Linked DNA regions of Homo sapiens. The protein of the gene in region 2 purifies or fractionates together with the protein of the main gene of each other region. This does not show direct contact. Each region holds a gene or a part of one and is shown on either strand. Other genes may lie near its edges.

What was found.
Region 1: the proteins of ABTB1 (region 2) and CARS1 purify together in Homo sapiens (affinity purification with mass spectrometry; 2 studies listed by BioGRID and IntAct, with this or other methods). This does not show direct contact.

Annotation. Positions count from the first base shown.
Region 1 is NC_000011.10:3,054,417-3,061,916, forward strand, and holds the start of CARS1 (cysteine--tRNA ligase, cytoplasmic), read right to left. Parts: upstream 3,008-7,500; 5' UTR 2,952-3,007; coding exon 2,927-2,951; intron 624-2,926; exon of another isoform or gene 525-623; coding exon of another isoform or gene 461-524; intron 1-460. UniProt on the Homo sapiens protein: Catalyzes the ATP-dependent ligation of cysteine to tRNA(Cys).
Region 2 is NC_000003.12:127,675,946-127,681,447, reverse strand, and holds the end of ABTB1 (ankyrin repeat and BTB/POZ domain-containing protein 1), read right to left. Parts: intron 5,479-5,502; coding exon 5,334-5,478; intron 5,177-5,333; coding exon 5,017-5,176; intron 4,913-5,016; coding exon 4,867-4,912; intron 4,482-4,866; coding exon 4,365-4,481; intron 4,281-4,364; coding exon 4,162-4,280; intron 3,984-4,161; coding exon 3,885-3,983; intron 3,773-3,884; coding exon 3,605-3,772; intron 1,464-3,604; coding exon 1,263-1,463; intron 1,180-1,262; coding exon 973-1,179; 3' UTR 522-972; downstream 1-521. UniProt on the Homo sapiens protein: May act as a mediator of the PTEN growth-suppressive signaling pathway. May play a role in developmental processes.

The DNA.
Region 1 (7,500 bases), on a different chromosome or scaffold from region 2:
AAGGCTCTTCAAATACCCGGAAACATGGTACCTGAGTTCATAGAGGAGCAAACATTTCATGTGGCTCTGGGGAAAACATCGAAGGGCATCAGCTTTATTCTCGTCTGCCTTAACTCACTGGGTTGAGCTATTGTGAGTCTGAAGAGAATCATCAAAGGCAGCACAGCACAGCAGTTAAGGTCCCTATTGAGTCAGGCTGCCCAGGTTGGGAGCCTGGCTGTGCCTCTGGCTAGTCGTGATGGTGGACAGATTGCTTGACTTCTCTGAACCTCAGGATTCTCATCTGTACAAGATGCCGGCAGGATCTTCCTCAAAGGGGTTCCCCCAAGGGTGGCAGGAGATAACAGATGCAAAGCATTTAGAGCAGTGCCTGGCACAGACTCATGCTGAAAAAATGCTGGCTGTGTTATTATGAAGACCCTTGAATTAAACTGTATAAAAATTAAACTATAAGTCTGACCTGATGAGCAGCCGACCAAGTGGTATCCCAAGTCTGTGCGGAAAGGCCCTGAGGTAGGCTCCATCTACCCCAGAAACCTCAGAAATGAAACTCATCCTTCTGAAATAATCAGGCTCTTGGACAGGCACCAAGCCTATGCACCTTCAAGACCGCAAAGGAAAAGCTGTACACCCAGTGAGATCAGGAAAGAGAAATAGACCTTCTGAGTCAACTTAGGGAAGATGGTACAAAAATGATGGCCTCCTTGAAAAATCTGGGAAGATGGTCACTGAAAGCATTTACGATTGGATTTTTTTTTTTTTGAGACGGAGTCTCGCTCTGTCGCCCAGGCTGGAGTGCAGTGGCGCAATCTCGACTCACTGCAAGCTCCGCCTCCTGGGTTCACATCATTCTCCGGCCTCAGCCTCCGAGTAGTCAGGCGCCCGCCACCGCGCCCGGCTAATTTTTTTTTTATTTTTAGTAGAGACAGGGTTTCACCATGGTCTCGATCTCCTGACCTCGTGATCTGCCTGCCTCGGCCTCCCAAAGTGCTGGGATTACAGGTGTGAGCCACTGCGCCTGGCCTACGATTGGATTTTATTTCCTGTTCTCATCTTTGAGAGTGTGTGTGTGATGGGAGGAGGCGATAGTAAAGGCAGGTGGGCCATGCCCTGGGGCAGAAGAACACTGGCTGGAGATGCTGTGCGCAGGCTGAGGACTGGGCAATCTGCCTGCTGCCCTGACAGCCCGGAGAGGGCAATCCCAACCTATATGGCAAGCTCCAAAAAGAAGGCAATTCTTACAAGGCTCTGAAAACCTAAAATTCTAAAGCTATTTTTAAAAACAAGATACAAAACACTACTAATACGTCATTTACGTTCACAAATGAACAAAAACACATTTTTAGTTTGAAAACAAACAGGCCCTAACTTTCAGCACAGACACAGCACTTAATTGAGTGCCAGGCACTGTTCTACGTCCTTCCCATCTATTAATTCATTTACACTCCATGCTCCAAGGTAGGAGCCATTACGCATGGTTTGCTGTGGGGCGGGAGGCAGAGTTGGAACCCTGGCCCTTCCAGGGTGGTTCCAGAGTTGGGGCTGTTAACTATGATGCTGTTTTACAGGAATCTGGGTGACTTCTGAGGGCCGCTTGGCTCTGGGACGGGTGGAGATGGTGCTGGAATCCAGGCACACAGGTAGGGTGGTAGGCGGCGTGCCTGGAAGGTGACCACCTCCTGCCACTTGGCACAAGAGTGTAGCCCTGTCATCTGGGTGTCCCCATGCCGCCAGATTACTCGGGTTGTCATAACTACCTATCTATAACCCAATAAACCCTCAGGGGCAAAGGGCACCACCAGATGCTAAGGAAATCTTGGTACGATCTAAACTGAGGGTGGGGGCTGGAGGTGTCTTACAAGAACTTGCATCTAATTTTTGCCAGCCAAAAGAATTAAAAACTAGATACTGAGAATGTTTCCTTTGGAAAGGCTGCTCCAGACTGTTAGGAATCTGGGCTTTCTGATTCAGTCTCTTGCCTTTCCAGCACCTAAAATCTTGCTGGAGGGACAGTGAGAGAAGAACCCACTGGTCTCTCAAGGTCTACCCGCTGGTGACATGAGTGACTGGGGGAGCTGACACAGCTGTGTCCCTGGGGAACCTCCCGGGTTGGCAATAAAATGGGGCAGTAATGCTCTGACAATCAGCTTGCAGTGGACTGCCTGCGGAACTGGAGATGAAAGCCTTCGTAAAGCCCCAAGCCCTTTTACTGTGTGTACGCGTACCCCTGGCGTCCTCTGCCCCATTTCCCTAAATACCAACCTCAGGTGCCCTCCGCCCACCTCCCGGAAGCTGCCAGGTCTGGGCAGAAAACCAAAACAACCCTTGGGCCTTTGTCTCCCCCCTAAAGGCCAGCTGGGGCAAGAGGGAGCGAGGGCCCGCCCAGGCACCGGCTGGGGAAAGGCTGTTTGATGTAGGGCCACCTCCCGGGGTGAGGATGCAAGGGGACCTCGGCAGGAACCAAGTGAGGAAACTGAGGCTGGGTGGTCTGGGCAGCGCCCCGCTCGGGCTCGGGTCCCCGCGGGGTCTGTGCTCCAGCCACGGGTCTGGCAGACCCTCACGCAGGAGTCCCAGGGGTCCCAGTGGCCGTCCCTCGGAGCCGGGCACCCGTTGTCCTTCGGATCCTAGGACGTGCCACCCCTCGAACCTCAGGACCCGCCGTCCCTCAGACCCCGGGCACTGACACCCCTCAGACCCCGAGCACCCCCGCCCCTCGGACCCAAGGACGTGCCGTCCCTCAGACCCCGCGCACTGACACCCCTCAGACCTCGGGCACTGCCGCCCCTCAGACCACGGACACAGCTGCCCCTCAGAACCCATGCACCCGGGCCCCTCAGACATAAGGACTCGCTGCCCTTCGAGCCGAGCACCCAGCGCCCAGTCAGGCCCCCAGCCGCCCTCAGCCTGGCCCGGCCGCGCCGCTCACCCTGCTGCCCGGAGGAATCTGCCATGGCTGGGAATCCCGGACCCGCAGCTGCGGCTACAGACACTTCCTAGAATCTGATGCAACCGCCGCCCCGGAAGTCGCGCCCCACGCCGGGCCCGTCTTCCGGGACACGCCCGGTCGCTAGGCAACTACCAGGGGCTCCGGATGTCGCCGGCCCGGAGCATGCTGGGAGCTGTAGTTCAACCCAATGGCGACCCGCGCTCCGGAGCATCGCGCGGCCAAGCGTTCAGTGGCCGTGCTGGGAGTAGTCAGCCCAGCCGCGGGGAGACAAGCACTAAAGACTGAGCGTCCTGTAATAGGTGTTTAAGTCATGATTGCGCTAAGCGCCGTGGGGACCAGGCCCAGCCTGGAGGTCAGAGGCGGCCTCGGGACAGGGTGTGCTGGCGAGACGGGATGGTTCCCAGGAGGCCGACCTGGAGCAGGGCCTGGGGATGGGCGGGAAGAGCGCTCCAGGCCTAGGGACCGCCCTGCCAATGACCCTGCGGAAAGCAAGCCACTATGAAGTGTTGCGTGAACAGGCTTCTCCATCTCCTTCTCAGACCCCATTCTGGAGCCATCCCCAACCCCCTTAGGGCTCCTGCCTTCTGTGTGCATGATGTCACCTCCCAAGGATATCCCACCCAAGGTTCGTGCACCCATCCAAAATGAGAGGAAATGCTATTTAAGAAACAGAATTTTAATATGTCAAGAAAAATTATTAGCCAGGATTAGTGGCTCATGCCTGTAATCCCAGCACCTTGAAAGGACAAGGCAGGAGGATCATTTGAGTCCAGGAGTTTGAAGCTGCAGTGAGCTACGACTGTGCCACTGCATTCCAGCCTAGGCGACAGAGTGAGACCCTTTCTCAAAAAATAAAAAGTAAAAAATCTTCTAGTTACTTTTTGGAACCTCATGTCTAATTTCATAATAAATTCTAAGGCCGGGCACGGTGGCTCACACCTGTAATCCCAGCACTTTGGGAGGCCGAGGTGGGCGGATTATGAGGGCAAGAGATCGAGACCATCCTGGCCAACATGGTGAAACCCTGTCTCTGCTAAAAATGCAAAAATTAGCTGGACATGGTGGCGCTTGCCTGTAGTCCCAGCTACTCAGGAGGCTGAGGCAGGAGAATCGCTTGAACCAGGGAGGTGGAGGTTGCAATGAGCCGAGATTGCGCCATTGCACTCCAGCCTGGCAACAGAGTGAGACTCCGTCTCAAATAAATAAATAAATAAATAAATAAATAAAATAATAAATAAATAAATTCTAAATTCTACTGGTGGCTGGAAAAAAAAAAGAAGAAAGAGTTTGTTTACATTTCTGCAAAGATCCTGTAGCATGTGCTGTAACTTGCCCAGGATGTGGGAGGCTCTGTGAGACCCCAACTAATCCCAAAGGAGGGACCAAGTCCAGGACTTAGGGGACGAAGTTCTGGCCAGGTCCTACCATGACTCTCACAGTGCCTGTTTCTCACTCATCACTCTAGGACCATGAGTCACCCAAGCCCAGCTCGGCCACATGCCTTCCTGGGAGAAGGAACCGGAGGCGCCCAGGAGAGTCAGAAGCCTCTTAGAGATAAACATTCGGCTAAGGCTTGCCCTGCCCTTCCTTTCTTGCACTAAGAAAGCCTCCTGACATCAGGTCAGGCAAGCCAGAGTTTGGCTGTAAGACCTGGGGTGAGTTTAACTTCTCTGAGCTTCCAGATGTCTTGTTTTTAAATCTGCAAAGTGGGGCCGGGCACTGTGGCTCACGCCTGTAATCCCAGCACTTTGGGAGACCAAGGCGGCCAGGTCATTTGAGGTCAGGAGTGCAAAACCAGCCTGGCCAACATAGTGAAACTTCATCTCTACTGGGAAAAAAAAAAAGGGTCTGCAGAGCGGAACTGGGAAATGATCACCTGCTCAGGTGGCCGAGCTGTGTCTAAGAGTGCTGCAGTGTCTAGCAGCAGTGGGTCCCGCCTCCCCAGTCCTGCTGCGTCCCAGCCCTACCACCAGGGCAAGGACACTCTCTGAACCTCAGCATCCCCCTGGTGTTGTAGTTCTTTGGGACAGCACATTGGGTTACAGGTTGTTATGGGTTGCATTGTGTCTCTCCCAAAAGATGTGGAAATCCTATAACCACCAGGACCTGTGAATGTGACCTTATTTGGAAATAGGGTCTTTGCAGATGATAAAGTCATAAGATGAGGTCATTAGGGGGGACGTTAATCCAGTATAACTGATATCCTTGTAAAAAGGGAAAATTTCAGCTGGGCATGGTGGCTCACACCTGTAATCCCAGCTCTCTGGGAGGCTGAAGAGGGAGGATGGCTTGAGCCCCAGAGTTTCAGGTTGCAGTGAGCTATGATTGTGCCACTGCATGCCAGCCTGGGTGCAGAGTGAGACCCTGTCTCTAAAATAAATAAATGAATAAATAAATACACATATATAAATTAATTTAAAAAAATTTTTTGAGACGGAGTTTCACTCTTGTTGCCCAGGCTAGAATGCAATGGTGCCATCTTGGCTCACCGCAACCTCAGTGTCCCAGGTTCAAGAGATTCTCCTGCCTCAGCCTCCCGAATAGGTGGGATTACAGGCATGTGCCACCATGCCCGGCTAATTTTGTATTTTTAGTAGAGACGGGTTTCTCCATGTTGGCCAGGCTGGTCTCGAATTCCCGACCTCAGATGATCCGCCCGCCTCGGCCTCCCAAAGTGCTGGGATTACAGGCGTGAGCCACCATGCCCAGCCAATTAATTAAAATGTTTAAGTGGAGGAAATTTGGACACTGACAAGCAGGGAGGGTGCCATGTTAAGATAAAGGCAGAAACTGGGGCGATGCTTCACAAGCCAAAGGGCACCAAACATTGTCAGCAAATCACCAGAAGTCAGGGGACAGCCTGGGACAGATTCTCCCTCACAGCCCCAGAAGGAGCCCACCCTGCTGATGCCCTGACCTGAGACTTCCAGCCTCCAGAACTGTGAGACAATAAATCCTTGTTGAAGCCCCCAAGCCTGGCAGCCCCAGCAAACTGATAATGAGGATTTCACAAGAGCACGTAGGGTAAGGACATCACACAGAACCCTGCCTACTAAATATTCCGCAAGTGCAGACCCATCCTGGAAGCTTCACTGGCCTGTTCTGGATGGCTGAGGGGCTGATGCCTTGGTCTGGCCCTGGGCCATGGGCAGCAGGTGAGTGAACAGCACCTTCCCCGGGCAGCTGGACTTTCCTCGGCCACCAGTGGCCACCGTGCAGGGCTCTCCCTTGAGTCTCCTAAGGGCCAAGGCCAAGTTCTCCAAGAACGCTGCTCTTTCCATGCCAGAGGATGGACAGTCCCCCTCAGTGTCCATGGGCAGCAGGGTGTCGCTGGGCCCACTGCTTTGAGGTGACTAAAGCAGAGTGATTTCTTTGCTGGCACAGCCAGCAGCTCAGGCCCTACCCAAACCACTTTTAGGGAAAGAAATGTCACATGGCCTGCAAGCCAGGGTAGCGCAGCGTTAGAGACGAATACACTCAGGTGAGCTCCCAGCTCTGCTGCCAACTCCCGGGGGGGTCCCAAGACAAGCCTGTTGTGGGTTGAGCTGTGGTCCCCCCAAAATGATTATGCCCATGTTCTAACCCCTGGTACCTGCGACTGTGACTTGATTTTTATTCATTTATTATTTTATTTTTTTTTAAAGCAGGGTCTCGCTCTGTCACCCTGGCTGGAGTGCAGTGGTGCAATCACAGCTCACTGCTGCCTCAACCTCGTGGGCTCAAGTGATCCTCCCACCTCAGCCTCCTGAGTAGCTGGGACCACAGATGTGCACCACCATACGTGGCTAATTTTTTATATTTTTTGTAGAGATGGGGTTTCATTATGTTGCCCAGGCTGGTCTTGAACTCCAGGGCTCAAGTGATCCTCCCGCCCTGGCCTCCCAAAGTGAGAGGATTACAGGCGTGAGCCACTGGACCTGGCTGGCTTTATTTGAAAAAGGCGTCCTTGCAGATATAATCAAGTTAAAATGAGGTCATCCTGGATTAGAATGGGTCCTAATCCAATGCCTAGTGTCTTTATGAGAGAGAGATTCAGAGATACAGAGATAGGTGTGAAGGGGGAAGCAATTGGAGTGATGTAGCACAAGCCAAGGATGGCCGGTGGCCACCAGAAGCCAGGAGAGAGGCAAGGAAGGACCTCCTGGAGAGCCTCTGAAGGAACCCACCCTGCGGACGCCTTGGTTTGGAACTTCTGGCCTCTGGAGCTGTGAAAGAATCAATCCCTATTGTTTCTGTTTTTGTTTTTAATGTTTAACTGTTGTGGGTATATGGTAGGCATGTAAATTCCTATTTGTTTTTAAAAATTATTATTATTATTTTTGAGACAGAGTCTCGCTCCCTCACCCAGGCTGGAGTGCAGTGGTGCAATCTCAGCTCACTGCGACCTCTGCCTCCTGGGTATAAGTGATCCTCCTGCCTCAGCCTCCCGAGTAGCTGGGACTACAGACGTGCACCACCACACCCAGCCACGTAATAATTTTTATATTTGTAGTAGAGACGGGGTTTCACCATGTTGGCCAGGCTGGTCTCGAACTCCTCACATCAGGTGATCT
Region 2 (5,502 bases):
CAATGGACAGCTTCCCATCTTTGGGTCTTCATTCTGAAGACGCCCATGTCTACATGCTAAATAAATTTGCGTGTCTTTTCTCCTGTTACTCTGCCTTTTGCAAGTTAATTTTTCAGTGAACCTTCAGAGGGCCAAGGAGAAAGGTCTCCCTTGGCCCCTGCAGCTTACCTTCCCATAATAAGGTAGCAGCCCCTGCAGGAAGGGCCACAAGGTCCTCCCTGGGGAAAAGACTGGCACTGGGCTGACAGAAAATGGTCATTTTGGTCCTGGCCCTCTCCTAGAATGAGGCCCACCACAACCAGCATCCATGGAGACAGGGAGGCAGGGAGCCAGGATGGGCCCAGGCCACACTGGGGTCAGTGGCAGATCTCTAGGTCTGCTCAGCCAGGTACCCTGGCCCTTGGGCTCTGGGCCAGCCTCTGCTGGGAGCCCCCAACTCTAGAGCTTCTTTCCTTGGTCACACCAGCTCCACTGGCTCCAGAAGGCCCCACCCTTCCCAAGCTGTACCCCAGGACACAGGCTCATGCTCCCACGGTGCCTTCAAGCTTTATTGCCACACACACTCCCCCAGCCCTTCCTGAATGGCCCTGTGCATGGGAACACCAGCTTAGAGAAGCAATTCAGGGCTAGGCAAGGGCCAGAGGACTGGATTTGGGACTGGGGTGGGTAGGGGGGATCTGGAGAAGGAAAGTGCTAAGACCAAAGCCCACCCCCACCCCAGGTTTCCCTGAGTGGTGTCCACCCCCAGGGTCTTGGGGGCTGGCTTGTGCATTGGGGGGAGGGGGCTCATCCCAAATGGATCCTCCCCTGGGGTCTCCAGGCTCATGGAGGGAAGAGAAGCCCCACTGAGCCCCTCGCACCCCCCATGAAGCCCTCAATGTGCAGGGAGCAGGAAGAAGAGCTGCACACAAACGCATACACATGCTTGTCTCCAAGAGAGCTCCTGGCCCCTGGGGCTGCCCAGCCAGGGGCTCAACAGTCCAGACCGATGGACACGAGCAGGTCCTCGAGTGCCCGCAGACGCTGCTGCGCCTCCTCTATGGCGCTGTAGGTCTGCACCGTGCTGGCCACGTGGAAGCGGATGTCGTCCACCAGCGGGATAGAGTCCGTCTCCTGCCGGGCTGCCACAGCCGCTGCCTCCTCCTTCACCGCCTCCACGAAGTCCTCCCGCTCCACCAGCTATGAGCGGGAAGGGCCAGCTCAGTGGAGGGGTGCCTGCCCTCTCACCCCTCCTTCCCACCCACTGCAGACCACTGGCCCACCTTCTCAATGACCTTGGCCATGTACTCAGTGCACTGGTCCTCAAGCCGCGCCAGGCGGAAGAGCTTGGCCACGCGCCACACACCCACCACAGTGTCCTCGTCTAGCATCTGAGCCAGGCTGCGGCCGCACAGCCTCTTCAGGCCTGGCAGCAGGTACATGTCGGCGACGCTCAGCACATCATAGGCTGCCTCGGGGGACAGCTGCAGTGAAGACAGGGATGAAGGTGCCCCCCGAGGTCACCAAGGGCTCCCAGGGCACAACAGCCAAGGCTAGGGCCTGTGGTGGTTGGGGGGCACTGGCGGGAAGGCTTCCAGTGGGAGTAGGAGCTCCCTGCGCATGTATGGGGTTGGGGGTCGGGGGGCTGGCCCAGATTCCCACAGGGATCTGCAGGACCGCTAGGGGGCAGAAGACTGGGGGGTTCTCCCATGCCCTGAGCAGGCTGGCAGGGCAGGCGGGAGGCAGGGCCCTCGCAGGAGCCAGGGTCTGAGCTCCGAGTTATACAGACCTGGGTCTGACACTTCTAGCTGTGGGGCCCTGGGCAAGTCACTGCACCTCCCTGTGCCTCTAGTTCCCAGTCCATGAGGTATAGATAACCATGCCTACCTGCGGGGGCTGTCAGAATGGTGGGACAGAGGCAGCTAGTCAAGACCTATGCAGGGACTCTGCCAGGGGTGGGAGACTATCTACCAGCTCCCTCCCTCTCAAGAGGCTGTGGGGACACAGAGCCCACCTACAGATACATCCTGTGCTGGATAAGACTGAAGCCCTCAGATTCAGGCCAGAGCCTGGGTGGCACAGGGAGCAAGCTGCAGACAGAGACAAGGGGAGCTCTGCGACCACATTACAAGCCATGTGCCATGTGCCATGCCACCTCCTTTACCTGGGTAACCCATGCATCTGCACAAGGCCTTAGGAAGTGACGACGAGAGCTATCCCCATGTTCTAGAGGCACAGAGCAGTTAAGTAACTGGCCCAAGATCACAAAGCTCACCCAGTGTCACACAGCTCAACCAGTATCAACCCAGGTTAAGAGCCCAAGCCACACTCTGAGACAAGGTGCCCTTTGGGTGGCGAGGCTCCTTGAAGAGGGAGCTTCTCCAGGGTGGGCAAAGGTAACCCCTGCTACAGGGGCCAGAGAGCTGGGCTGAGCTGCAGGAGATGCCCAGTAGAGGGGGTGGGAAAGATGGAGGCTGAGGGGCTGTCAGGCCGCGCGGAGGGATGGACAAGGGAGCTGCCACTGGAGATAGAGCAGCAGTAGGGACTGCCCTCTGTCTCCCAGCATGCTTCCTCCCCTTCCCCCACAAAACAGGGCCCTGGCCACAGAATGACTTTCCAAGCCTCCCTTGTTGGCAGGTAGGCACGAAGTTCTCTCCAGGGGAACATGAGAAGTGGTGCAATTTCCGGTGGCTTCTACAAAAACAGCATTGCTTGCCCTGCCTTCCTCTTCCTCCTAGAGCATGAGTTTGCCTAGGACCCAATCTCCATGGCCAAACGCGATGCCCCAGGCAGGATGGGTAAGCTACGGCCTGTGGACCAAATCCAGCCTGTTTGTGCAAGTAAAGTTTTATTGGAATGCAGCCTCACCCACTCATCTCTGTACTGTCTCTGGCTACCTTTGCGCTACAGAGTTGAGTAGCTACAACAGGGCCATATGGCCCACAGAACCTGAAACACTCACCTTCAGAGAAAAGGTTTTTGACCTTCACCCTTAGGCATACAGGGGCAAGATGGAGGGATGACCTGATCTTCCGCAAGCCACTTGCCCTGGGGCACCCACCTCAGTCAGAAGTGAAGGAGAAACAAACTCCCCTCTTCTTTAAGCCACCAGATATGGGGATTGCTTTATAGTGCGCGCGCACGCGCACGCACACACACACTCTCTCTCTCTCTCACACACCCTGGCAGAGCAAACCTTCAGCACTCTGCTGCTGCCCTGCAGCCTTGGCTTACGGACACCTTGGGGCAGCTGGAGACAGAGGCAGGCAGCAAGGGAAGAGGAGACTGGGAACCCAGAACCCCAGGGATCTGCAGCACCACAGAGAGGAGGCTGTCCCCACCCACCCTCCACCCTCCTGCTAGAGAAGCTGAGGATCCCAAGTGGCTGACAAGTGTGGAGTGTCTGTGACACAGGCTCATCACTCATCCTCTCTCTGGAGCCCAACAAGGCTTCCTCTACCTGAAAGAAAAATCCAAAGTCCCACAGCCTTCCCCTCCAGCCTTCTCAAAACGTCAACCATGGGGCCAGCTGGGCCCTTCCACAGACCCCCAGGGCCCTGGCGCTCCCTCTCAGCCCACGGCAGCACAGGTTGTGTGCCATCCCCAGCTCTGCCTGAGCCCCCACCTCAGTGTGGTCGCTGTACATGTAGTAGAGCACGTGAGTGAAGACGTCGGGTGAGATGCCATGCAGGGTGACGGCTGGGGGGCCCCCTGAGGTCGCTGGCTCCTCGCTCTCTCGGAAGTGGTCATCCAGCAGGGCTCGGAAGTAGTCACTGCGGCCACAGAAAAAGGCCTGGGGGAGGCCGGGCTCAGGAAGTGTGAGGGCCAGGGTCTGTCTCCTGAGGAGCTAGACGGGGGCTCAGGGCAACGGGCTGGGGCCAGGGGCAACAGGAGGGCACAGGCACCTTGTGGCAGAGGAAGCTGCAGCCAGCCACTCGGAAGCAGATGTCAGGGCAGCTGTTGAAGCCGTCAGGACAAGGGAAGGGCAGCTCCCAAAGATCACCCTGGGGTACAGAAGAGGTGACCCCATCAGAGCAGTTGTTCACAGAAGTGAACGACTAGGTTCAGAAAAGGGAAGTAACTGGTCCAGGACCACACAAGGAATTGAGCCCAAGTATCTGGGCTGCCTGTCACGGCCTGCCATCCCAAAACGCCCTTCCTGCCCACCAGCCCCGCACTTACTCGGAGCTCGGGGGGCAGGGCACAATCGGCCAGCAGCGCCATGTCCTCCCGGAGGCGGGGGTCTGCAGGTGGGGGCTCGATGGTCAGCACCTTCACACACGTGCCTGGCTTAGACGCCACTACAGGGGAAGAACAACTTCAGGGAGCCAGGCCAGCCCTGCCAGGCCGCACCCATGGCCCCGGGCCCCAAACCCTGCTCGCACCAAACTCAGACACCTTCTCGCACTTGGCCTCCAGGTCGCTGAGCAGGTCCCACAGCTGGCATTGCTTGGCCAGGCGCTCACAGTCACTCACATGCTCTACGCCAATGTCCAGGCGGCCTGGGGGCAGTGGGGAGGATGAGGGCCTGCGGGACCTCAGCTGTCATCAGGCCCACAGAAAAAGGGTGATCCCCTCCCACCTGGCCACCTGGCTGCAGGACTAGGACTCCTGGGCCCACTTGCCACCATGGTTTCCCCATCAAAAGCTGTTCTACAGGCCCCAGGGAACAGATGGGAGGGCCTCAGCATGTGGGTGGGACAAGCTCTTCCTGAGCAGGCACACTAGTCCTCTCTCTTGCAACCCAACCCGAGAGGCAGCTGGAACCACCCCGGGGGGACCATGAAGTGTCTAGAGGTGAAAGGTCAGCCCAGCCACACCTAGGTGTACTGCTGTCCAGAAGGACGGCCCACTCCCTCTCCTCCTACCCTGGACCCAGGGGGTCACCTGTGTACAGGTACTGCAGCAGGGCCCCAAAGGCCACGGGGTTGATCTGTGGGCAGAAAACCAGAAAGTAATGTCAGAGGCAGCCACCCAGCACAACCTCCTGCTGTTCCTGGACAGTTCATGCCCCTCTGCCACCCTGAAGGGACATACCAGTGGGTGCCTGAGAACCACGACACTCTTGCCCTTCCATTTGGTGTCCAGCATGTTGGCAAAGTAGGCACTACGTGCACCCAGGACGCAGCGATGCACCCGGAATGGCTTCCCGTGTACTACAAAGACCACGTCACTGTGGATGCCCTGCTCTAGAAGCCTGGGGAGGGACAAGCCAGGAGGGAGGATACTTGGCACAGCCCCACCCCATTCCTCGGAGCACTCAGAACCCAGTGCAGGCCACAGTCAGAGCAGACTCGCCACACCCACCAGGGCCACCGCACCCCATGCTGCACCCCTCGTGTGCCCTGGCTCACCGCTGCAAGAAGTCGTCATAGTAATCCCGCCTCCTGCAGGAAGCCGTGACCTGCTTGTAATCGCGTAGAGCCCGGCGGATGGGGTCACTCAGTGCCCCATAGAGGCAGCGCTCACCATCGAAGGTGTTGGCCTCGCAGCGGGCTCCTGGGGGAGGCAGGGCTCACCAGT